Linked DNA regions of Homo sapiens: region 1 is linked to region 2. Evidence: fine-mapped QTL for protein levels in blood plasma. A gene starts in region 2. The other region holds a variant in brackets. All regions are shown on one strand. Distances are from middle to middle.

What was found. PIP is the posterior inclusion probability: the model's chance that the variant is causal. Protein levels are from the aptamer-based SomaScan assay of Sun 2018.
Region 1: its variant is fine-mapped to the plasma level of the BCAM protein (Sun 2018, PIP 0.95).

The regions. Positions count from the first base shown.
Region 1 is chr19:44,825,836-44,841,771 of GRCh38, reverse strand. No RefSeq gene overlaps it. Among named protein-coding and RNA genes, the nearest start is that of NECTIN2, 12 kb to the left of the region's middle. The variant T/C (reference allele first, on the strand shown) is at 9,033.
Region 2 is chr19:44,801,879-44,812,499 of GRCh38, reverse strand. It overlaps BCAM (basal cell adhesion molecule (Lutheran blood group)), which reads right to left and starts at 3,397. Exons shown (of 15, transcript NM_005581.5): 1 at 3,294-3,397; 2 at 1,154-1,275; 3 at 109-337; 4 at 1-22. The coding sequence starts at 3,375. RefSeq lists an enhancer at 1-223.

The DNA.
Region 1 (15,936 bases), 27 kb before region 2:
ACCCTGTCTCTACTGAAAATACAAAAATTAGCAGGATGTGGTGGCGGGTGCCTATAATCCCAGCTACTTGGGAGACTGAAGCCGGAGAATCGCTTGAACCCGGGAGGTGGAGGTTGCAGTGAGCCAAGATTGTGCCACTGCACTCCAGCCTGGGTGACAGCAAGGCTCTGCCAAAAAAAAAAGGAAAAAAAAAAAAAGAAAGAAAAAAATGCCCCAGAGGTGTAGGCTGGAGTTTCACACCCTTGGGTCACAAGCATGAGGCTGAGCACCAAGTTTGGTGACAAATGACTGGGTGGGTTCCACGCCCGCCTGGGGAGTTGACTTTTAGTGTCAAGGAGTCCCAGAGGTGGCACTTCACTGAAGAGCCATAACCACTAGAAGGTAGGGGCATAGGTAGGGGCAAAGGCTTCCTGACGGAGCTATGGAGCTGATGCCAAGTATTTTACCTGCCTGGCAACCTTTCCTTTCTTTTAGCAGCAGCAGCAGCTCCCCTAACCACTTCCTCCCCTCAGTCTTTTTTTTTTTTTTTTAATTAAGACAGGGTCTCACTCTGTCGCTCAGGCTGGAGTGTGGTGACATTACCATGGCTCACTGCAGCCATGACCTCCCTGGCTCGGGATCCTTCCATGTCAACTTCCCGAGTAGCTGGGACTACAGGCATGTGCCACTATGCTTGGCTAATTTTTCTATTTTTTTGTAGAGATGGGTTTTTGGGTTGTTGCCGAGGCTGGTCTTGAACTCTTGGGCTCAAGCAATTTGCCTGCCTCGGCCTCCCAGAGTGCTGGAATCACAAACGTGAGCCACCATACCCGGCTCTTATTCTGAGACAGGGTCATGCTCTGTTGGCCAGACTGGAGTGCAGTGGTACAATCATGGCTCATTGAAGCTTCCACCTCTCAGGCTCAAGCAATCCTCCCACTTCAGCCTCCCAAGTGGCTGGGACTATAGGCATTCGCCACTGTGCCAGAATAATCTTTTTTTTTTTTTTTGAAACGGAGTCTTGCTCTGTTGCCCAGGCTGGAGTGCAGTGGAGCGATCTTGGCTCACTGCAAGCTCTGCCTCCTGGGTTCACGCCGTTCTCCTGCCTCAGCCTCCCGAGTAGCTGGGACTACAGGCGCCCGCCACCATGCCCAGCTAATTTCTTGTATTTTTAGTAGAGATGGGGTTTCACCTTGTTAGCCAGGATGGTCTCAATCTCCTGACCTTGTGATCTGCCCGCCTCGGACTCCCAAAGTGCTGGGATTACAGGCGTGAGCCACCGCACCCGGCCAATCTTTTTTTTTTTTTTTTTTTTTCTGATACGGAGTGTCAGTCTGTTGCCCAGGCTGGAATGCAGTGGTGTGATTTTGGCTCACTGCAACCTCTGCCCCCTGGGTTCAAGTGATTCTCCTGCCTCAGCCTCCCAAGTAGCTGGGACTACAGGTTTGGGCCACGACGCCTGGCTATGTTCGCAGTTTTATTAGAGACGGGGTTTCACAATATTACCAGGCTGGTCTTGAACTCCTGACCTAAAGTGGTCTGCCCTCCTCTGCCTCCCAAAGTGCTGGGATTACAGTCGTGAGCCACCGTGCTCGGCCTGCCAGACTCATCTTTTGACTTTTTTGTAGAGACAGGCTCTCACTAGGTTGCTCAGGCTGGTCTTGAACTCCTAGGCTCAAGCAATTTTCCTGCCTTGGCCTCCCAAACTGCTGGGATTACAAGCATGAGACATGACTCCTGGTATACATATATATATATATGAGACTATATATATATGTATAGACTATATATATATATATATGTATGAGACTATGTGTGTGTGTGTGTGTGTGTGTGTGTGTGTGTGTATATATATATATATATATATATATATATATATATATATATATAGTCATTTGCAATCAAATATAACCTTACTAATAAACTATATACCCCAAAAAATCTGTACATGTCTGGGAGATGCACAGAGCTTTGTAAATTTCCAAGGGCAGGGCAAGGAGGGGCTGGTGGTGAAAGCTTTCAGAATTCTTCAGGATGTCCAGGCTTTGAAGAATAGGCAAGCTTTGTCACAGCACGGGATATGGGGAAGGGCATTCCAGGTAGGAGGGTGGTGACAGCGGGAGCAGGGGATGTGAGGGTCAGTATCTTAGAAGGTCCAGAATGCCAGCTGAAGGGCGGCTCATGCTCTGGGAACCACAGAAGGTTAAAGAGCAAGGGTAGTTTACTACCAACTTCTCTTTACTTCCTGGAGCCCCAGATCCTGAGGTTCACCCCTCCCACTTTCCTATTGCCCTAGGCCTTTGTAATGTAGGCTGGAGTTTCAACCCTTGGGAGGAGGGGTCATACTGATGTGGCCCCAGGCTGCCATCTCTATGCAAATTCCCTGGGATGCCATGCAGATGAGGGACCTTATGCAAATGTATTCCCTCCTGGTGGGGCAGGCTGGGATCCTCCACTCATTAACTTGGGGACCAGGTACTGGATGGAGAACCCTTTCCTCTTCTCTTTCCCTTCCCACTAGCCATCTGTTCACTCGCCATCCAACTCACCAAACCCCAACACCAATGTCTGCCTTTAGAGTGGTATCTCTGTATCTGGTCCCTGCCCTGGACTAAGGGAGTGTTTGTATTTTATTTATTTTATTTTATTATATTTTATTTTACTTTTGAGATGGAGTCTCGCTCTGTTGCCCAGGCTAGAGTGCAGTGGCGCGATCTCGGCTCACTGCAAGCTCCGCCTCCCGGGTTCACGCCATTCTCCTGCCTCAGCCTCCCGAGTAGCTGGGACTACAGGCGTCTGCCACCATGCTGGCTAATATTTTGTATTTTTAGTAGAGACAGGGTTTCACCGTGTTAGCCAGGATGGTCTCGATCTCCTGACCTCGTGATCCGCCCGCCTGGCCTCCCAAAGTGTTGGGATTACAGGCGTGAGCCACTGCGCCCAGCCTATTTGTTTATTTATTTATTTATTTTTGAGACGAAGTCTCGCTCTTGTCCCCCCAGGCTAGCGTACAATGGTGTGATCTCGGCTCACTGCAACCTCCGCCTCCCGGGTTCAAGCGATTCTCCTGCCTGAGCCTCCCGAGTAGCTGGGATTACAGGTGCCTGCCACCACGCCCAGCTAATTTTTGTATTTTTAGTAGAGACGGGGTTTCTACTAAATCATGTTTGCCAGGCTGGTCTCGAACCCCTCACCTCAGGTGATCTGCCTGCCTCGGCCTCCCAAAGTTCTGGGATTACAGGCGTGAGCCACCGCACCTGGCCTTTATTTTTTTTTTTTTGAGACAGAGTGTCGCCCTGTCACCCAGGCTGGAGTGCAGTGGTGTGATCTCGGCTCGCTGCCACCTCCGCCTCCTGGGTTCAAGTGATCCTTGTGTCTCAGCCTCCTGAGTAGCTGGGATTACAGGCGCGTGCCACCATGCCCAGCTAATTTTTGTCTTTTTTTTTTTGTAGAGACAAGGTTTCACCATGTTGGCCAGGCTGGTCTCGAACTCATGACTTCAGGTGATCTGCCTGCCTCGGCCTCCCAAAGTGCTGGGATTACAGGTGTGAGCCACCGCACCTGGCCTAAGGCAACCTTTTTGCTTTTCTCTGTGTCTCTTTATTTTTCCTTAGATAATCACAATAATTAACATGTACTGCACATGGACTCTGTGCCAGGCTTTGTACTAAATACTTCCCTGGTTATCTCATCAAATTCTCCCCTCCATCCTCTGATCCTCTGTGTGCATTTGCTGTATTTTTTTAAAGGGAATTTTCAATTCTGTTATATAGGGAACAAGAGCCCTATAAATAAGGACACAGACAGGTGAAATGAAGGATGGATATTAAGAAGCAACTCAAGCCGGGCGTGGTGGCTCACACCTGTAATCCCAGCACTTTGGGAGGCTGAGGCAGGCGGATCATGAGGTCAGGAGATCGAGACCATCCTGGCGAACACGGTGAAATCTTGTCTCTACTAAAAATACAAAAAATTAGCCAGGCGTGGTGGCACCCGCCGGTAATCCCAGCTACTCGGAAGGCTGAGGCAGGAGAATCAGTTGAACCCGGGAGGCGGAGGTTGCAGTGAGCTGAGATCGCGCCACTGCACTCCAGCCTGGGCAACTGAGCAAGACTCCGTCTCAAAAAAAAAAAAAAAGCAACTCATGAGACCTGTTAGACATACTAAGAATGTGAGCTGAACACAGATGGGAGGGATGCAGGGATCCAGTAAGCTCCAAGCATTCATGCGTCCTGTGGGCGACACCCACTCTGCTCCATGAGTCCCAAGCCCAAGACACAGGTAAAAGCTGTGGCTGCCAAGCAGGTGATCAGCCAGCTACAGTCATCTAGCTTCTCATGTTTATTTTTGTTGTTGTTTTGAGACGGAGTCTCGCCCTGTTGCCCAGGCTGGAGTGCAGTGGCGTGATCTTGGCTCACTGCAAACTCCGCCTCCCGGGTTCAAGTGATTCTCATGCCTCAGCATCCCCAGTAGCTAGCATTACAGGTGTGCCCCCCTACCCCTGGCTAATTTTTGTATTTTTAGTAGAGATGGGGTTTCACCATGTTGGCCAGGCTGGTTGAGAACTCCTGACCTCAAGTGATCTGCTTGCCTCGACCTCCCAAAGTGCTGGGACTACTGTTATTTTATTTTTTGAGACAGGATCTCGCTCTGTTGCCCTGGCTGGAATGCAGTGGCTGGATCACGGCTCACTGCAGCCTCAGCCTCCCAGGCTCAAGGGATCCCCCTACCTCAGCCTCCCGAGTAGCTGGGACTACAGGCGTGTACCGCCACATCAGGCTAATTTTTGCATTTTTTGTAGAGACAGAGTCTCTGTTTGTTGCCAGGGCTGGTCTCGAACTCCTGGGCTCAAGTGATCCTCCTGCCTTGGCCTTCCAAAGTGCTGGGATTACAGGCCTGAGCCACAGCGCCCAGCCTGTTTTATTTTTTGAGTTTTGCACAACATCTTTTGTTTTAATCAAATCTCTTTGTTTTACTCCCATAGATTTGGCTTCAAAATTGAAGATCTAGATTCCATGTCCAGAGAAAGAGAGAACCTGATGAGTCTTGAGAACAAGACCAGGGACAAGATCTCTGAGCTGGAGTTCAAGGTCAACAGCCCACTTTGGTTAACAAGAGGCACCTCCTGGCTGTCCAGTGCTTCCTCGTGGAGGAGTCAACTGCTTCTCTTGGGAGGTGGAGGGTGTTCCCATCCAAGTGCCTCCTCAGGCCCTAGAGAGTCAGGGATTGGTTGCAGTTCCTGAAGTCTCTTCCTAGGTCTGTGGACCTTCTAAGGAATTCCACTGACCACTTTCCCCACTGGAGTCCAGCAACACCATTAGGATGTGAATTATTATTATTATTATTATGTCTTGGAGACAGGATCTTGCTCTGTCTCCCAGCCTGGAGTACAGTAATGCCATCATAGCTCGCTGCAGCTTTGACTTTCTGGACTTGAGCGATCCTCCCACTCTGAGTAGTGGGGACTGCAGGTGTGTGCCACCATGTTTGGCTAATTTAAAAATTTTTTTGTAGAGATGGGATCTTGCTGTGTTGCCCAGGCTGGTCTTGAATTCCTGACCTCAAGTGATTTTCCCGCCTTGAGCTCCCAAAGTGCTGGGATTACAGGCGTGAGCCACTGTGCCTGGTGGGTTGTGAAGTTTGTTCATTGATGTCTCCCCAGTGCCTGGCACACAGTAAACACTCAATACACTTTTTATTTTTTTGAGACGGAGTCTCGCTCTGTTACCCAGGCTGGAGTGTAGTGACTCGATCTCAGCTCACTGCAACCTCCGCCTCCAAGTTTCAAGTGATTCTCCTGCCTCAGCCTCCCGAGTAGCTGTGACTACAGGCATGCACCACAATGCCAGGCTAATTTTTGTATTTTTAGTAGAGATGGGGTTTCACCATGTTAGCCAGGCTGGTCTCGAACTCTTGACCTCAGGTGATCAGCCAGCCTTGGCTTCCCAAACTGTTGGGATTACAGGCGCGAGCCACCACGCCCTCTGAACTTTTCTTGAAGGTATGATTGCGTGAATGGAGGAATGAATCCTCAGGTGTGTTTTGCCAGGGGCTGGCCAGGCATGGCTTTCCCAGTAGGTGCTCTATTGCATTGGAAAGGTGGAACAGGCTTGACTTCCATGTTTGTGAATATAAACTGGCCTCTTAGGTCTTTCTTTCCTCCAGTCTTTCCTCCTCAGGCATAGATGGTAAACAAAATGTCACCAACCTCACCAGCAAAGTGCTCATTTCCCTGGGGCCAGAACATGATGTACACAGACACAAATTTAGCATATTTGATATCATGATATCATGCCCACCTGGTGGGGTCAGCTGGGTGGGCTGCCCACCTGGGCCCCAAACCTCTCTCGCACTCTTCCTGGGAATCTATCCTTTTGCTGAGACTGCAGGCTATGCCTCTTGGAGGTGGTAAACAGAACTTCAAGGGGCAGAGACAGGTACATGAGGCACCACACAGACCCACTGACCCAGTCTGGCTCCAGGGTTAAACAGATCTTGAGACAATGAAAATAAACTTAGCAATAATCAAAGCTTTAAAGTAAAAGCTTCTATATATATGTGTGTGTGTGTGCGCGTGTATATACACATATATATGTATGTATTTATTTATACATATATAAATATATATGCGTGTATATATGTACATATAAATATATAAAATTAAAGAGATGTGGGAGGCCGGGCGCGGTGGCTTACACCTGTAATCCCAGCACTTTGGGAGGCCGAGGCGGGTGGATCACAAGGTGAGGAGATCGAGACCATCCTGGCTGACACGGTGAAACTCCGTCTCTACTAAAAATATAAAAAATTAGCCAGGCGTGGTGACGGGTGCCTGTAGTCCCAGCTACTTGGGAGGCTGAGGCAGGAGAATAGCGTGAACCCGGGAGGCAGAGCTTGCAGTGAGCCGAGATCGCCCCACTGCACTCCAGCCTGGGCGACAGAGTGAGACTCCGTCTCAAAAAAAAAAAAAAAAAAAAAGAGAGATGTGGGAGGTCGGGCGTGGTGTCTCATGCCTGTAATCCTAACACTTTGGGAGGCCAAGGCAGAAGGATGGCTTGAGCTCAGGAATTCAAGACCAGCCTGGGAAACATAGTGAGATCCCATCTCTACAAAAATAAAAAATTAGCCTGGCGTGGTGGCACATGCCTGTGGTCCCAGCTACTCGGGAGGCTGAGGCAGAAGGACTACTTAGCCCTGGGAGGTTAAGGTTGCAGTGAGCAGTGATTGCACCACTGCACTACAGCCTGGATGACAGAGCGAGACCTTGTCTCTAAATAAATAAATAAGGCTGGGCGAGGTGGCTCATGCCTGTGATCCCAGCACTTTGGGAGGCCGAGGTGGGCAGATCACCTGGGGTCGGGAGTTTGACACCAGCCTGGCCAACATGGTGAAACCTTGTCTCTACTAAAAATACAAAAATTAGCCAAGCATGGTGGTGCACACCTGTAATCCCAGCTACTCAGGAGGCTGAGACAGGAGAATCCAGGAGGTGGAGGTTGCAGTGAGCTGAGATCGTGCCATTGCACTCCAGCCTGGGCAACAGAGCAAGACTCCAACTCAAAAAATAAATAAATGAATGAATGAATAAATAAATAAGTAAATAAATAAATACATGAAGGTGCTGGGTGTCACTGCATTGTTTCTTTCTAGACTTTCCTCTGTCTCTCTGTTTCTGTCACTATCTTTGGGTCTCTTCGTGTTCCTAAATTTCTGTATCTCTGGGTCTTTCGTTCCTTATGCTTCAGCATCCCTCTGTGTTTCTGGTCTCTGTTTGTCACTGTTCCCTTTTCCTTCCCTTCCGTCCTTCCCTCTGTGGCTCAGGCTGGAGTGCACTGGCCAGATCACGGCTCACTGCAGTCTCCACCTTCCTGTGACTAGGTGATCCTCCCATCTCACCCTCCGGAGTAGCTGGGACTACAGGCTCATACCACCACACCTGGCTAATTCTTTTGGATTTTTTGTAGAGATGGGGTTTTGCCACATTGCCCTGGCTGGTCTTGAACTCCTGGGCTCAGGCGATCTGCCCACCTCTGTCTCCCAAAGTGCCGGGATTACAGGCATGAGCCACTGCAGCCTCCAATTATAATATGTGCTTCTCAAATACCGGTTCCTATTTATTTGATGCCATTAGTAGGTTAGAAAGTATAATGTAAGCTGGGCGCTGTGGCTCACGCCTCTAATTCCCTTCCTTCCCTTCCTCCTTTTCTTCCTCCTTCCTCCCTCCCTTCCTCCCTTCCTGCCTTCCTCCTTTCCTTCCTCCTCCCTCCCTCTCTCCCTTCCTCCTTTCCTTCCCCCCCTCCCTCCCTCCTTCCTTTTCTTTCTTCTTTTTGAGACAGAGTCTGGCTCTATCCCCCAGGCTGGAGTGCAATGGCGTGATCTTGGCTCACTGCAACCGCCGCCTCCTGGGTTCAAGTGATTCTACTGCCTCAGCCTCTCTAGTAGCTGGGATTACAGGCGTGTGCCACTACACCTGGCTAATTTTTGTATTTTTAGTAGAGATGGGGTTTCACCATGTTGGCAAGGCTGGTCTCGAACTCCTGACCTCAGGTGATCCTCCTGCCTTAGCCTCCCAAAGTGCTTGGATTACAGGCGTGAGCCACCACGCCCGACCCAATTCTTTCTGATATATACCCAGAAGGGGAGTTGCTGCATCATATGTTAAGAAATTTTTAAATAAATAGATGTTATGAAGCAGCATATTAAAAAAAATAAACAATGTAGTCAAATAGAGTTTCTCCAAGGAACTTGGCAATTTTAAATATTTAATAATTTATGCCAGGTGTGGTGACTCATGCCTGTAATCCTAGCACTTTGGGAGGAGGCCGAGGCAGTCGCATTGCCTGAGCCCAGGAGTTCAAGACCAGCCTGGGCAACATGGTGAAACCCTATCTCTACAAAAAGTACAAAAATTAGCCAGGTGTGGTGGCATGCTCCTGTAATCCCAGCTACTCAGGAGGCTGAGATGGGAGGATCACCTGAGCCCTGGGATGTTGAGGCTACAGTGAACCGTGATTATGCTACTTTACTCCAGCCTGGGTGACAGAGTGAAACCC[T/C]GTCTCTTTTTTTCTTTTGTTTTAAGAAACCGTGTCTCAGGTGTGGTGGCTCACGCCTATAATCTCAGCACTTTGGCAGATTGAGGCAGGAGGATAACCTGAGGTCAGGAGTTCAAGACCAGCCTGGTGAACATGGTGAAACCCCGTCTCTACTAAAAATACAAAAGTTAGCTGGGCGTGGTGGCGGGCGCCTGTAGTCCTAGCTACTTGGGAGGCTGAGGCAGGAGAATCACTTGAACCCAAGAGGCAGAGGTTGCAGTGAGCTGAGATCGTACCGCTGCACTCCAGCCTGGGCGACAGAGCGAGACTCCATCCCCCCATCCCCCCAAAAAAGAAACCTTGTTTCAAAGAAAAATTTAACATTTTCTACCCACTTAATAAAGTGACACTGTATGAAAAAATTTAAAAAATTCACATAACAGATTAAAAACCTGTTAAATATATTTATATATACACATGTAAACGCACATGTGACATACGTACTTTATTTTATTTTATTTATTTATTTATTGAGACAGAGTTTTGCTCTTGTTGCCCAGGCTGGAGTGCAATGGTGCGATCTCAGCTCACTGCAACCTCTGCCTCCTGGGTTCAAGTGATTCTCCCACCTCAGCCTCCTGAGTAGCTGGGACTACAGGTGCCCGACACCATGCCAAGCTAACTTTTGTAGATTTAGTAGAGACGGGGTTTCACCATGTTGGCCAGGCTTGTCTCGAACTCCTAACCTCAGGTGATCCACCTGCATTGGCCTCCCAAAGTGCTGGGATTACAGGCATCAGCCAACATGCCTGGCCATGGACTTTATTTTAAAATGGGATCATATTCTAGATCTGCATTACCCTGTAGAAATTTCTGTACTGGGGGCCGGGCGCGGTGGCTCACACCTCTAATCCCAGCACTTTGGGAGGCTGAGGCGGGCGGATCACGAGGTCAGGAGATCGAGACCATCCTGGCTAACATGGTGAAACCCCGTCTCTACTAAAAATACAAAAAATTAGCTGGGCGTGGTGCGGGCGCCTGTAGTCCTAGCTACTCGGGAGGCTGAGGCAGAAGAATGGCGTGAACCTGGGAGGTGAAGCTTGCAGTGAGCCGAGATCGCCCCACTGCACTCCAGCCTGGGTGACAGAGCAAGACTCCGTCTCAAAAAAAAAAAAAAAAAAAAAAAGAATAAAAAAGAAATTTCTATATTGATGGAAATGTTTTATATCTGTGCTGTCCAATATAGTAACCACAAGCCACAATTGTCTGTTGAGCAGTAGAACTGTGGCTATTGTCACTGAAGAATGAGATTCTACATTTTATTTAGTTTTAAGTAGTTTACGTTTCTATAGCCACATATGACTAGGGATACCGTATTAAACATCAAGGATCTAGAAAGTATTTTCTGAAACATATCACTCACTCAACATTACATTGGTAGCTTCACTCCGATTTTATTTTATGTATTTGTCTATTTTTTTGAGACAGGTTCTTGCTGTCATCTAGGTTGGAGTACAGGGGTGCGATCACAGCTCTCTGCAGCCTTCATCTTTCTGTCACAGTCTCCCGAGTAACTGAGGTTACAGGCACCGGCCACCACGCCTGGCTAATTGTTTGTATTTTTAGTAGAGACGGGGTTTCACAGTGTTGGTCAGGCTGGTCTTGAACTGCTGGTCTCAGGGGATCCACCCGACTCTGCCTCCCAAAGTGCTGGGATTACAGGTGTGAGCCACCTTGCCCGGCCGAAGTTATTTGTTTTTTTTGAGACAAGTTCTTGCTGTCACCTAGGTTGGAGTACAGTGGTGCGATCATATCTCACTGCAGCCTCCCTCTTCCCGCCACAGCCTCCTGAGTAGCTGGCACTACAGGCTCGTGCCACTATACTCAGCTAGTTAAAAAACTTTTTGCTGGGCGCGGTGGCTCACTCCTGTAATCCTAGGACTTTGGGAGGCCAAGGCGGGCGGATCACGAGGTCAGGAGTTTGAGACCAGCCTGATCAACATGGTGAAACCCTGTCTCTACTAAAAAAAATACAAAAATTAGCTGGGTGTGGTGGTGTATGCCTGTAATCCCAGCTACTCTGGAGGCTGAGGCAGGAGAATCGCTTGAACATGGTAGATGGAGGTTGCAGTGAGCCAAGATCACACCACTGCACTCCAGCCTGGGCGACAGGGTGAGACTCCATCTCAAATAAAAAAAAAAAGTATAATATAAACCATATGCCAATCACAAACAGAACCAAAGTTATATGTTAGCATTAACATTTTTTTTTAGAGTGAGGTCTTGCTGTGTTGCCCAGGCTGATCTCAAACTCCTGGCCTCAAGTGATCCTCGTGCCTCAGCCTCCTGAGTAGCTGGGACTAGGCATGAACTACTGTGCCCAACATTTTTTTGTTTGTTTGTTTGTTTTTGAGATGGAGTCTCACTCGGTGTCCCAGGCTGGAGTTCAGCGACACAATCGCAGCTCACTACCACTTCCACCTCCTGGGTTCAAGGGATGGGCTGGGTGCCCAGCTATTTTAGGATAAATTTTCAAAGAATGTGCATGGCTCAAATGAAGAAATCTAAAATATCTTTCTAAGGTATTTAAAAGAAAATATGAATATTAGTAAAAATGGTCTATGCATAGAACCCAGAAACTAGAAAAGAACAAAATCAAGCAAAAGTATTAATACTTAGGATGATGGAAGTAACTTGGGTGGGTTTGGGGCAAGAGCTCCTTAAAATAAGAGAGTCTGAAAGACATTTCTGGCTAGGTGCTATTTTGAGCCAAAATCTGCAGTATGAGAATGAATGAATTACGTGAGGATCTGTAGTGAAAGATTTCAGGACAAATGAAGGGTAAGTTTGAGAGTCCTGGTCAGGTGTGATGGGTCATGCCTGTAATCCCAGAGCTTTGGGAGGCTGAGGCAGGAGGATCTCTTGAAGCCAGGAGTTCAAGACCAGACTAGTCAACACAGAGAAACCCCATCTGTAAAAGTTTTTTTTTTTTTTTTTAATTAGCCAGCTGTGGTGGTGCATGCCTGTAGTTGCAGCTACTGAGGAGGCCGAGGTGGGAGGACCTGCTTGAGCCCCAGGGTTTGAGGCTGCAGTGAGCTATGATCACACCACTGCACTCCAGCCTGGGTGACAGAGCGAGACCCTGTCTCAAAAAAAGAAAAAAAGAGGTAGGAAAGAAACAAAATATTCAAGGGCTGGAGAGACAGACTGTCTGATAGGATGCAGGCAAGGAAAGTGAAGCTAGGGATGGCAGAGAGAGAGGCACTATGCACGCAGCCTTTTGTAGGAGTTTGAATTTTATTCTAAGAGAAATGAGAAAACCTGAGTCACAGACGGGTTTCTAATCTGCTATTTATTTATTTATTTATTTATTTATTTATTTTTGAGACGGAGTTTCACTCTTGTTGCCCAAGCCAGAGTACAATGGTGCGATCTCTGCTCACCGCAACTTCTGCCCCCTGGGTTCAAGCGATTCTCCTGCCTCAGCCTCCCAAGTAGCTGGGATTATAGGTGCGCACCACCACACCTGGGTAATTTTTTGTATTTTTAGTAGAAACGGGGTTTCACCATGTTAGCCAGGCTGGTCTCAAACTCCTGACCTCAGATCATCCACCTGCCTCGGCCTCCCAAAGTGCTGGGATTACAGGCATGAGCCACCGTGCCAGGCCTGGTTTATGTTTTAAAAAAGCATAAATTTCGAGAATACGCAGTACACGTATGCATTAGGACGCTCCTGGAAAAGTATAAAATTATGTTTAAAAGCAGTTATAGGCAGGGCATGGTGGCTCATGTCCATAATCCCAGCACTTTGGGAGGCTGAGGCGGGCAGATCACCTGAGGTCAGGAGTTTGAGACCAGCCTTGCCAACTTAGTGAAATCCCATCTCTACAAAAAATACAAAAATTAGCTGGGCCTGAGGGCAATGCACCTGTAGTCCCAGCTACTGGGGAATCTGAGGTGGGAGGATCACTTGAGCCCAAGGTCGAGGCTGCAGTAAGTCATGATTGCACCATTGTACTCTAGCCTCGGCGACAGAGCCAGGTCCTGTCTCAAAAACAAACAAACAAACAAACATACATGAGAGCAATGGGTCAGCCTGGGCAACAGAACAAGACTACATCTTAAAAAAAAAAATTGGCCCGGCATGGTGGCTCACGCCTGTAATCCCAGCACTTTGGGAGGCTGAGGTGGGCAGATCATGAGGTCAGGACATCAAGATCATCCTGGCTAACACGGTGAAACTCTGTCTCTACTAAAATTAACTGGGCATGGTGGCATGCGCCAGTAATCTAGCTACTCTGGAGGCTGAGGCAGGAGAATCGCTTGAACCCGGGAGGTGGAGGTTGCAGTGAGCCAAGATTGCGCCACTGCACTCCGGCCTGGGCGACAGAGCAAGACTCCATCTCAAAAAAAAAAAAAAAAAAAAAAAAAAAAAAAAAAAAAATTGGCCGGGCGCAGTGGCTCACACCTGTAATCCCGGCACTTTGGGTGGCCGAGGTGGGCCAATCACCTGAGCTCGGGAGTTTGAGACAATTCCGGCCAACATGGTGGAACCCCGTCTCTACTAAAAATAAAAAAATTAGCTGGGCGTGATGGCATGTGCCTGTAGTCCCAGTAACTCAGGAGGCTGAGGCAGGAGAATCGCTTGAACCCGGGAGGTGGAGGTTGCAGTGAGCCGAGATCTCGCCACTGCACTCCAGCCTGGCGACAGAGCGAGACTCCGTCTCAAAAAATAAATAAATAAATAAAGAGAATTGACAAGTGAAAGTATTGCCTATAAGATAATTTCTTTTTTTTTTTGTGAGATGGAGTCTCGCTCTGTCGCCCAGGCTGGAGTGCAGTGGCATGATCTCAGCTCACTGCAAGCTCCGCCTCCTGGGTTCACGCCATTCTCCTGCCTCAGCCTCCCGAGTATCTGGGACTACAGGCGCCCGCCACCACGCCCGGCTAATTTTTTGTATTTTTAGTAGAGACGGAGTTTCACCGTGTTAGCCAGGATGGTCTCAATCTCCTGATCTTGTGATCCGCCCGCCTCAGCCTCCCAAAGTGCTGGGATTACAGGCGTGAGCTACCATGCCCAGCCCCGCCTATAAGATACATTTTAAAGTTATTCTGTATTTTATAGAGCCATATGAGCTTGGTGTTTTATTTTTTTTTTAACTTTTACCATTTTAGATTTAGGAATTCCACTTTAAAAGGATGGGAAGGGTGACTGAAAGGTAACGTTTAAATTTTTAATTGATGTGAGTATTAGAGCCATCAAAGATTGCTGTTGAGCATTTGCTTTTATAAGTGCATTGATCCAGGTGAAAGAAGATGTATGTTTGGACTGATGGCCGTGAAACCATTTGTAGAAAGAGCTAGCTGCAGCTCTATGCCCTGTGGCAGGGTATAGAGTTAAAAGGTTTATTGAATATGGGAAGCCGGGGGATAAGTGGTCAGGAAAGAGAGCTGTATGGGAGGGGACCCATGGGATGTGCCTTTGGGTTATGTGAGTGGGAGGTAAAGGAAATGGAGGAATCCAGGATAAATTCTAAGTTTTGGGCTCACCCAGCTGGAGGGCAGGGATACCATTTATGCGAGAGGAAAGACTGGAGGTCGATTTGGGACATAATAGGTTTGAGGTATCTATGTGGATATCTGTCTGTCTATCTATCATCTATCTGTCTATCTATCTATCTATCATCTATCTATCTATCTATCTATCTATCTATCTATCTATCTATCATCTATCTATCATCATCTGTCTATATCTATGTAAAGACAGGGTCTCACTCTGTCACACAGACTGGAGTGCAGTGGTGCAATCAAGACTCACTGCAGCCTCGAACTCCCAGGCTCAATCAACCCTGCTGCCTCAGCCTCCTGAGTAGCTGGGATCACAGGCATGCGCCACCATGCCCGGCTAATTTTTTGTATTTTTAGTAGAGACAGGGTTTCACTATGTTGGTCAGGCTGGTCTTGAACTCCTGGGCTCAAGCGATCCGTCTGCTTTGGTCTCTCAAAGTGCTGGGATTACAGGCATGCCTGGCTACCCCCTGCCTGGCTATTTTTTTGTATTTTTAGTAGAGACAGGGTTTCGCTATGTTGGCCAGGCTGGTCTTGAACTCCTGGACTCAAGTGATTCACCCACCTCGTCCTCCCAAAGTGGTAGGATTACAGGCGTGAGTCACGGCACCCAGCCTGAGATAAAAGCTTTATAAGATTAGAGGTTAATATTCCTGGTGTGTAGAGAGATCCTGCAAATTAATAAGAAAAGGTAAAAAAAAAAAGAGAAAAGTAGGCAAGAGTATACCACAGTTCATAAACAAGAAAAGCAAATGGCCAATGAACATACAGAGAAACACCATTTTCACACTAGAGGTCACGGAAATTCAAATGAAAACAAATTAATATGCCATTGTGGTGAATTTGTATAATTCTATATTGTCTTAGCATCCATTCTGAATATGTTTAACTTTCTCATGCCAAAATCTGGACTTAGTTATCCTTGACACAGTTTCCAGCTCTATACTTCCTCCCAGTCCTTCCTCCCTCCCTCCCTGCCTCTCTTCCTTCTCTCTATTTCTTTTTTAGAGACAGGGTCTCATTATGTTGTCCAGGCTGGTCTCAAAATCCTGGCCTCAAGCAATCCTCCTGCCTTAGCCTCTCAAAGCACTGGGTTTACAGGTGTAAGCCATCATGCCCGGCTCTCCTTCCAGTTTCTTACTGGAGTTGATCAAGGTATCAGCTTTATCTCACCTCCTCCTGTATGGGACCATCTCTGTATGGGACAGCTAGATAGATACAAACTACTTGACCCAAGCTACTGATCCCCACACCTCCAATGAATGGACTGTGCAGATATGACAACCTCCATCACAGTGTGTCTCTATGGAATTCTTGTGCCTGCTTGTTCTAAACCCATCAGTTAGAACTCTCCTGG
Region 2 (10,621 bases):
ACCTCAGTGGCCTCTGGCTTTGCTGTGAAAAAGACGTTCACGTCAGGAGCCCCTGCCCTGCGCCCCTCCCTGCCTGCCTCCCTTCGGGGGATGCCCGAGGACACTTACCAAACACGTTGAGCCGCGCAGTGGCCTCAGCAGTGCCTGCCGCCCCTGCCCTCACCACGCACACGTAGTCTCGCTCGTCGCCCACCTGGGCCTCAGCCAGCACCAGGCGCCCCTGGGAGTCCAGCTGGTATGGGGGACTGCGGCCCCGGGTGTCGTGCATTGTGACCTGGAGCTCAGAGCCCTGCATCTCAGCCGAGGCTAGGCGGGGGCGAGCTCCCGAGCGGTCGGTCTGTGGGCGCGGGGCAGGCTCTCAGCTCCGGGTGTCCCAGCGCTCCTCAGTCTCTCTCTCTCTGGGTCCTTTCTCTCTGCAGCTCCTGGCTCTGCCTCTTTTCCTCTTGTTATGGGTCTCCCTGGTCCCTCTGTCCCTCCCCACCTTCTCCTGCCCCCATTCCCTATCAGTTCTTGATTTTTCCTGTCTCCTTTTCTCCATCTCATTCCGGTCCCATCCCTTCTCCTCTTGGTCTCTCCCTCTCCCGATTGTCTCTCATTTTCTTTCCTCTTTTTTTTTGAGATAGAGTCTTGCTCTGTCGCCTGGCTGGAGAGCATTGGCTCGATCTCGGCTCACTGCAACCTCTACCTCCCAGGTTCAAGCGATTCTCCTGCCTCAGCCTCCTGAGTAGCTGGGATTACAGGCACATGCCATCACGCCCAGCTAATTTTTGTATTTTTAGTAGAGACGGGGTTTCACCATGTTGGTCAGGACAGTCTTGATCTCTTGACCTCGTGATCCACCCGCCTCGGCCTCCCAAAGTGCTGGGATTACAGGCGTGAGCCACCGTGCCTGGCTTCTGCTTTCTTGATGTCTGTCTCTGTTCTCTCTCTCAAGAGCCCGCAGTCCAGAGCAGGTCAATGTCATTCTAGACTTGGCTGTGCCTAGACACGGGGCACCTTGCAGATCCCTTCCCCTCAGTGGGACTCAGTGACCCCATCTGTAACAAGGAGTGTGGCTTGGTGGATCTCTACAGGCCTTAGGCACTGATGAGAGAATGAACCTTTGCTGCCCTGCTGTGCCCTGACTCCAGGCCCCCCAGCCCCAAGCACTCACAAGGAACCATTCCAGCATATAATGGTCGTGGGTTCCCGTAGGGGTGCAGTCCAGAATGACAGACTTTCCTCGCATCACCTCCACCAGCGGGGGTACAGACAAGCGCACCTCCGCCTGGGCATCTGCAAGAGAGCAACTGAGCTATCATCCACCACACCAACAGGAAGAGCCCTCCAGACAGGGTCCCCTCTCCCCCAGGACACAAGCGTCCAGGTCCCAGCCCCTCCTCCCTCAGACCCAGGAGTCCAGGTGCCAGCCCCTCCTCCCTCAGACCCAGGAATCTGGGCCCCTGTCCCCTCCTCCCTCAGACTCAGGAGTCTAGGCCCCAGCCCCTCCTCCCTCAGACCCAGGAGTCTAGGCCCCAGCCCCTCCTCCCTCAGACCCAGGAGTCCAGGCCCCAGCCCCTCCTCCCTCAGACCCAGGAGTCTAGGCCCCAGCCCCTCCTCCCTGAGATCCTTTCGCCCTCCATCCCTTCTCCCTGCATCTCTGGGTCTCAAATCCATCTCTCCCTGCACTTGCAGAGCTCAGGGCTCCTCCTCTGGGCTGCACAGGGCCCTGTGGCCTCCGCTGAACACTCCTGGGGTAATACTGCACCAGCCTTTGCTTATCCCAACAGAGCACACGCCACCCCCCAGGGCAGGGCCAGGCCTGGCTCAGCCATTTGCCTCCAGCACCCTGGGCAGGGCCACCTCTGTGATGATGGATAAATGTTTCTCTCCATCCTGGTCTCCACCTTTGCGTGTGTCTCTCCTCTTGGGTCTCCATCTCTGTCCCTGTCTCTGCCTCTCTCTGCACCTGCACCACTCAGTCCCTGGGTCTCTTCCGCTCTCCCATGAGTGAGGGGCTGGGGTGTGGGCTGCGGCTGGGCCCGGAGCTTAGGCGGGATGGATGTGTGGGGGCGGTGAGGGGGGACAGGGCTGGGCAGGTTTCAGGAATGTGGGAGGGACAGGCTGGCTGAGACCTGCCCGGCCTGGAGCCAGAGCCCCCAGCCGCCTCTTGGCCCCCCTCAGTTTGATACAACAGCAAACGGGATAAGTCGAGTCATCTTGCAAAAGGATAAGGTTGAGGCCCAGGATCTTGGGAAGCTGGGCACCTGGACTCCTGGGATCAGAGGGAAGAGGAGGCTGGGGCCTGGTGGAGTAGTTATTGTAGAAAAACCACCACCCTCCCTCACCCTCTGGGCTGGCATCCTGGCATCAGCTCTCAGTGCTTCTTAGAAACTCCCTTCCCTTCTCTGCTCAATCTGGCCCAGCCCTACCCCTGGGGACCCACTGTTGACCATGAGTGTGCCAGGGGCCTGGATTCCCAAGCGCTCACCTCTGGCCCCAGCCTGTCCCCAGGGAGGGGTGACGGGGTCCAGGCTGGTGCCTAAGGCTGGGTCTGATCTGCAGACAAGTGGAGGCAGAGAGTTCCTCTCTCTTCCCCAATCTCTCTCATCTCTCTGTCCCTCTGTCCCCAGCACCCCCACCCCCACCCCCCAGCCCCCGGCCTCCTCTCCTTCTATCCTCATGCAGGTGTGTAAATGTAGCTGAGGCCCCAGGAAGGGGGCCTGTCACTTGGAAACACTTTGTTCCACTGTCACTGCCCGGGGCTGGTGCTCCAGCCCTTTCCTGAGGGAGGCGGGTTCTTTATACTGGACTCTGGAAACTCCTAAATACATGTGGATCGCTGGTGTGGGGACACATGGTCCTCGCTTCTCTAAGGGGTCCCTGGACCTCTCAAAACTTGAGGACCTTTGAGGGAGAGAGCCCTGGGGTTTTGATCCTCTGTGCCCTGGGGGAAGCTATTCTAGCCACTGGAGGCCTGGACTCCTGGGTCTGAGGAAAGAGGGGCTGGGGGCCCAGATTCCAGGGTCTGAGGGAGGAGGCAGGTGGGACCCAGATTCCAGGGTGCTGAGTGGGAAGGGGGCTGACTTCTCTGGTTGTCTCTGATCCACCGCCTGGGTATCCCCAGCTCTCCTGCCTGGCTGTCCCCAGATCTCTCTCACTGGAAGGCGTACCTTCCAACACTCCCATATCCCTCCTCCTTGGGGTCCCCACATTTTGCTTCCTGGGGTCAGGGTAAAGCCCTTTCTCCTCGCTTTCCCGGGGTCCCCAGGGGCCTCTCCCCAGTCCCACCTTGCCCTCAGCCCGAGCCATACCTGGGTGCGCCGCCAGCAGGACTGCGAGCAACAGCAGCCGCGGGGCCCCGCGCGCCTGGGCCGGTGCGTCCGGGGGCTCCATGTTCACGGCGGCGGCGGAGACTGAGCCCGGGCTGCAGCTCGGCCGCTGCGGGGCTGGGAGCCAGAGGCCCCGCCCCCGGCAGCCCCGCCCCGCCCCGCCCTCCAGGCCCCCCTCGTCCCCCGATGCCCGGGCGCGGGGCCAGGACCTCCCACTGCCCGGAGCGGACCTCCCAGTGCACGGGGCCAGGCTCGGGGCTCGTCCGCCCCCAAGCCTAGAGCTGTCCGGGCTTACTGACCAGCGCCTGCAGCGGGGGGCCTGATCGACCAGCGTAGCCAGTGACCCGAGCTGGGATCTCACCAGGCAATCGCGGACCTTCTCCTCGTTATTCTGACCAGGGGCCTTGGGGACTCGTCCCCACTGTGACCAGCAGCCTGGGCTGGCATCGTCGATTTTAACCAGAGGACCCCACTGCAACCTGTGGCCTGCGATGGCCTCTCCCAGTGTAACTAATGGCCCCAAGCGTGCCGTCCGAGTGGCCTGCACTGGCCTCTCCCAGTCCAACCAGTGACCCCCGCAGCCTGACCAGTGGCCCCCAGCAGCTGCTCCCAGTATGCCCGGAGATGTTTTCCCCTGTGGTCAGTGCTCTGGGCTGCTTTCCTCGTCTGACCAGTAGCCTGGAATCAACCGGTTTAATCTCTTATTTTCAATGGTCTTCAAATCCAGGTCCTCCTAGGCCGCTTCGATGATGGGGCTGGGGGTGGGGTACGGGGTGCCCTCTCTGCTTGCTCACCCATGGAAGGCCCTCCCACTCTTCCCCCTATCCAGGGAATCCCAGGAATGCCACCCTCCCTTCCTCCTTCCCGCTCTCTCCTTCATTCCCTCCCAACCTTGTGGGGAAGGGAGGAGTCAGACTGGCCAGAGCAGGTGAGGAGGGCAGGGGAAGAGGCCAGGGCACCTGCGGGAAGGGGGAGGAGTCCAGCCACTGCTAGGAAGCGTGGGTCACAGGTCCGACTGCCCAAGGCCCCTACAGGCCAGGTCAGACTGGGACAAAATCCCCCACTAGATGTCACTAGTTGCCCAGGACAGTGGTCAGAACGTGGGAGGGTGGGGGGTCGCTGGCCACACTGGGAGAGGTTACCCAAGCTTCTGATCAGCCTGGGGGTTGAGGTAGCCCTGGAGCTGGGCTTTGCCTGCTCAGACATACAGAGAAGGCTTGGATTACAGGTCAGCCTGGGAGTTATTAGACTGGTCAAGGTTACTTTATCCATTGGTCATACAGGAGACCAACGTTTTTTTTGTTTGTTTGTTTTGTTTTTGACAGGGTCTCGCTCTGTTGCCCAGCCGGGAATGCAGTGGGCGCAATCATAGCTCATTCAAACCTCAACCGCCTGGGCTCAAGCAATCCTTCCACTTCAGCCTCCCAAGTAGCTGGGACTATAGGCTTGTGTTACCATGTCCAGCTAATTTTTGTATTTTTTTGGTAATAGAAACAGGGTATTACTATGTTGCCCAGGCTGGTCTCCAACTCTTGGGCTCAAGTGATCCTCCTGCCTTCCAAAGTGCTGGGATTACAGGCATGAGCCACTGCATCCATCCTACAGAGCAACTGTTACATTGGGAAAGACCTTTTAGGATTAACTGTACCATCCCCTCCTCCAGGAAGTCCCCTCTGCCTTCCCTGGCTGGGTCAGGTTCCCCCTCTGGGCTCCCCCACCTGAGCCCGGCACACTCTGGGGGTCCCTGGCTGGGGATAGGTCTGTCTCCCTCAGTGGACTGTGAGCCTGTGAGGGCAGGGCCAGGGATGTCTTGATCACTGTGGTGAGCTAAGGGCTCCTCCCCTGGGCACCCCGCCCAGCACAAGACCAGACACAGTGCAGGTGCTCAGGGAAGGTTTGTTTGCAAGGCACACAAACTCACGTGCAGATTCCATCCAGACTGGAGCATCCCAGGATATACAATACAAACTCACTCATGGGGAATGCGGCGGCACTCCAAGACAGTCCCAGGTGCTGTCAAGCTCACACACTGTGAGCACCGACACCCATACCCTAGCTCTTCTGTCCCCAGCCTGTGCACCTTCTGTTTGGGCTGGACCCTGGTACATGCCCTCTCAGCAGCCATCGCCCACTTCCACCTCCCTCAAGAACCCAGCCAGCTGAGGCTGGGCGCTGTGGCTCATGCCTGTAATCCCAGCACTTTAGGAGGCCGAGGTGGGTGGATCACCTGAGGTCAGGAGTTCGAGACCAGCCTGACCAACATGGTGAAACCGCATCTCTACTAAAAATACAAAATTAGCTGGGCGTGGTGGCACATGCCTGTAATCTCAGCTACTCAGGAGGCTAAGGCAGGAGAATCGCTTGAATCTGGGAGGTGGAGGTTGCACTGAGCTGAGATCGTGCCACTGCACGATGTTGCCTGGGCAACAAGAGTGAAATTCTGTCTCAAAAAAAAAAAAAAAAAAAAGAAGAACCTAGCCATCTGAGGTTCTGGGTGAGGGAGGAGAACTCTATGGCATGTGTATGAAGGAGAAAAGTCAGAAACACCAAAACAGCAGCCGTGGACCCTTGCAGACTTGCAGAAACTAGTCTTGTAACATCATCTGCCTTTGTCCCCTGTAATTTATTCTCACAAAACAGCCTGAAGGATTCCTTTTACATGTGAATCAACTCATGTCACTCTTCTGCCCCAGGGTCCTCCCATGACTTCTGTCTCACTTAGGGTAAAAGCTGAGGTCCAGGTCAGCCGCAGGGACTCACGTCTGTAATCCCAGCAATTTAGGAGCCTGAGGCGGGAGGACTGCTTGAGCCCGGGAGTTTGAGACCAGCCTGGGCAACATAGCGAAACCCCGTCTCTACAAAAAAATATAAAAATGGCCAGTCATGGTGGCCCATGCCTGCAATCCCAGCACTTTGGGAGGCCGAGGTGGGTGGATCACCCGAGGTCAGGAGTTTGAGACCAGCCTGGCCAAAATGGTGAAACCCCCTCTCTACTTAAAATAAAAAAATTAGCCAGGGGTTGTGGCAGGTGCCTGTAATCCCAGCTACTCGGGAGGCTGAGGCAGGAGAATTGCTTGAACCTAGGAGGTGGAGGTTGCAGTGAGCTGAGATCATGCCATTGCACCCCAGCCTGGGTGACAGAGCGAGACTCAGTATCAAAAAAAAAAAAAAAAAAAAAAAAAGTTCTAATTCCATCCATGCGGCCGCAGGTGTATATCCTCACATATTTTAACTAACAAGGCTTATCTTTTCTGAAACTCTGGGCTCAAGCGATCCTCCTACCTCAGCCTCCCAAAGTGCTGGGATTATAGGTGTGGGCCACCACGGTTGGCCAGACTTACCTTTTCATTGTTTTTGAGACAGAGTTTCACTCTTGTTGCCCAGGCTGGAATGCAATGGCGTGATCTTGGCTCACTGCAACCTCCGCCTCCCAGGTTCAAGCAATTCTCCTGCCTCAGCCTCCCAAGTAGCTGGGATTACAGGCATGCGCCACCATGCCCGGCTAATTTTGTGTTTTTAGTAGAGACAGGGTTTCACCATGTTGGCCAGGCTGGTTTCGAACCCCTAACCTCAGGTGATCCACCAGCCTCAGCCTCCCAAAATGTTGGGATTACAGGCGGAAGCCACAGTGCCTGGCTGACTTATCTTTTCTTGACCTTTTTTCCCATTATTTTTCACACAGTGTGTGACGATTAACTTTACAACTAGCTCACAGCTTGTGGAATATGGGGAGAATGACATATTTGGAGGGGAATGGTTCTTCCCTGATTCCAGTCTCAGATCTGGAAAATGGAACTATTGAAATTTTTTGTATTGGGTGGCAGTGTGAATGCATTTTTTGATTGTACAATGAGAGACGGTTGTGCGGGGAAAGTTTCGATAAGAACTTCTGCAAAGGGCCTATTGATATTGAACATTCAAAGCCAGCTGTGGTGGCTCATACCTACAATCCCAGCACTTTGGGAGGCTGAGGCAGGTGGATCGCTTGAGCCCAGGAATTTGGGACCAGCCTGGGCAACATGGCAAAACCCTGTATCTACAAAAAATACATATTAACCGGGGGTGGTGGTGGTTTGTGCTCGTAGTCCCAGCTACTCAGGAGGCTGAGGTGGGAGGATCGCTTGAACTGGGGAGATCAAGGCTGCAATGAGCCAAGATCGTGCTACTACACTCCAGCCTGGGTGAAAGAGTGAGACCTTGTCTAAAAAACAAAACACAACAAAAAAAACCAAAGGAGCGGGCTATAGTACATATTTTGCGGGAAGGATTACCTAGCATCTGCAGCTCCTTCCCACATTTAAGGAAATTCCTACTGTCTGAAAGCCTCTGTTGCCCACTCTTGAAGCCAACAAGAATGGATGTTTGCTTTCCTGCATCTGTTGGAGCTAAGGTGACTTAAGCTTGGCAAATCCTTCCACACTTTTGAATATCAGGAATTGGCCACCTCTTCCAGCCATGCATGGCAGCTGGGACAGATTCTGTTTTCCAAAGACGGCTACAACAATCTCTTTCTTTTTTCTTTTTGAGACAGGGTCTTGCTCTGTCACCCAGGTTGGAGTGCAATGGCATGATCATGGCTCACTGCAGCCTCGTCCTCCAGGGCTCAAGTGATCCTCTCACCTCAGCCTCCTGGGTAGCTGTGAGTACAGGTGTGCACCACCACTCCTAGTTAATTTTTTTTTTTTTGTAGGAATGGGGTTTTGCCATGTTGTGACAGTGTCTTTCATCCCATGTGTGTTTCCACAATGAGAGCTTGATACTCTTTCCATCAAGAGCTGGGGTCTATGGCACCCTCCTCTCAAATCTGTGCAGTTTGGTGACTTGCATACAACCAACAGAATTCAGCTGAAGTGAAGTTGCGGAACTCCCAAAATGAGCTAGAAAAGGCCATGCAGCTTCTGCCTGGGTCTTCAGCGGCCATATAAAGTTTGACTACCTTGAGGCAGCCATGCTGTGGGGAAGCCCAAGCTGGCCAGTGCAGAGACTATATGGTGGGGGAGGCCCTGAGACCACAGAGAGATGCCCACTTGTCCAGCACCCCCAGCCGCCCTGTGGCAAGCATCACTGATTGCACTGTTTGTTTGCATCCTGAGCCAAAACAAACCAGCCACGCCTTTCTTCAAATCCCAGCCCACAGCAACCATGAGACTTAATGCAATGATTGCTGTCATTTGCGGCTAAGTTGTGAAGTGATTTATTACCAGCAACAGCTAATGAGAAGAGCAGCCATATCCTATTTCTGGGGCAGCAGAGGCAGCGAGACAACTACAGTGTCTAGTGGCCATCGCCAGCATGGCCTCATCAGACCGGTTCCGTGGTGTCACTGTGGCTGGGTTACCATTGCTGGCCAGTTGCCAGGATTCTTCCTGCTCACTTTCCAATCCTGATTCCCCAGTTCACTCCTGGGATTCTGTGAGTGACCCCAAATCCTCTCAATAAATTCCCTTTCTGCCCCTGAGGTAGCATCTGTTGCTTGGAACTAAATCTGTGAAAATTCTCTTTCTTTCTTTTCTTTCTTTCTTTCTTCCTTCCTTTCTTTTCTTTCTCTCCTTCCTTCCTTCCCTCCTTCCTTTTCCTCTCTCTCCCTCCCTTCCTTCCTTTTTTTTTTTTTTTTTTCAGAGTTTCGCTCTTGTTGCCCAGGCTGGAGTGCAATGGCACAATCTCGGCTCACTGCAACCTCCATCTCCTGGGTTGAAGTGATTCTCTTGCCTCAGTCTCCCGAGTAGCTGGGATTACAGGTGCCCGCCACCATGCCTGGCTAATTTTTGTATTTTTAGTACAGACGGGGTTTCACCATGTTGGGGTGAAAGTATAGACGGGGTTTCACTCCTGACCTCAGATGATCCACCTGCCTCGGCCTCCCAAAGTGCTGGGATTACAGCTGTGAGCCACTGCGCCCGGCCCTGATACATTCTTTCAAGCCTCCTGTCCATTGGAATACTTTTTCATCATTTAAAAAATTTTCTTTTCTTTTTTGAGACAGGGTCTTGCCATGTTGCCCAGGCTGGAGTGCAGTGGTGCAATCTCGGCTCACTGAAGCCTTGACCTCCCAGGCTCAAGCCATCCTCCCACCTCAGCCTCCTGAGTAGCTAGGACTTACAGGCATGTGCCACCATGCCTGGCTAATTTTTCCAAAATTTTTTGTGGAGATGGAGTTTCATCACGTTGCTCAGGCTGTTCTCAAACTTCTGAGCTCAAGCATCCCGCCTGCCTCAGTCTCCCAAAGTGCTGGGATTACAGGCATGAGCCACCACGTCTGGCCTCATCATCTTTTAAGTATCAGCTCAGACATCGCCTCCTCCTGGAAGCACTCCCTGACCTCCCAGGCTGAGTCAGGTGCCCACTCTGGGTTCCTGTAGCCCCCTGGGATTCCCTACCCCAGCCATGCCCACTCTGGGTCATCACTGTCTAGGGACAGGTCTCTTTCCTCTAGTGGAAGGTGAGCCCTAGTGGGGCAGTGATCACTGCTTCCTGGTCAGCATTGCTCAGCCCAGCGCTGGGCACAGGGCAAGGTCTCCGGGAATGGGGCAATTTAAACAAGGTGGAGGGAGGCTTGGGCCACTCCAAGATGAATCATGAGGTGGTATCTCTTCTTCCTCAGCAAGATTTAGACTGGAAGTTAGCAGTTACTCTGGGAGAAAGATGTCAGAGAGGAATGAAGGACAGAGAGAGGGATGAGCACAGACCGTGGCAAGGCAAGGTGGATAACCATCAGGGAAATGTGTGGTCCTTTTGACCAGGGACTTAACCTGGATATCTGGGTCTAGGTCCAGGGATTTTTTTTGCCATGATGAAGCAGGAGGGTTGGATGCCCGATTCTCAGAAAACTTGGGATTCTGGACTTCTAAATCCTGAGAGCAGGACTCCTGGGTATCACAGAGAAGGCTGGGGGCCCAGTTTCTTTTTTTTTTTTTTCTTTTTTTAAGACAGGATCTCGGTCTGTCACCCAGGCTGGATTGCTGTGGCACAATCACAGCTCCCTGCAACCTCAGCTTCCTAGGCTCAGTCTTTCCCACTTGGCCTCCCAAAGCCTTGGAATTACAAGCGTGCGCCACCGTGCCTGGCCCCAGATTCCATTTGAAGATCTGAGGGTGGAGGGGCTGGGGACCTGGACTCCTGGGTCTGAGGGAGGAGGGGCTGGGGCCTGGACTCCTGGGTCTGAGGGAGAAGGGGTTGGGGGTCTGGACTCCTGGGTCTGAGGGAGGAGGGGCTGGGGCCTGGACTCCTGGGTCTGAGGGAGAAGGGGTTGGGGGTCTGGACTCCTGGGTCTGAGGGAGGAGGGGCTGGGGCCTGGACTCCTAGGTCTGAGG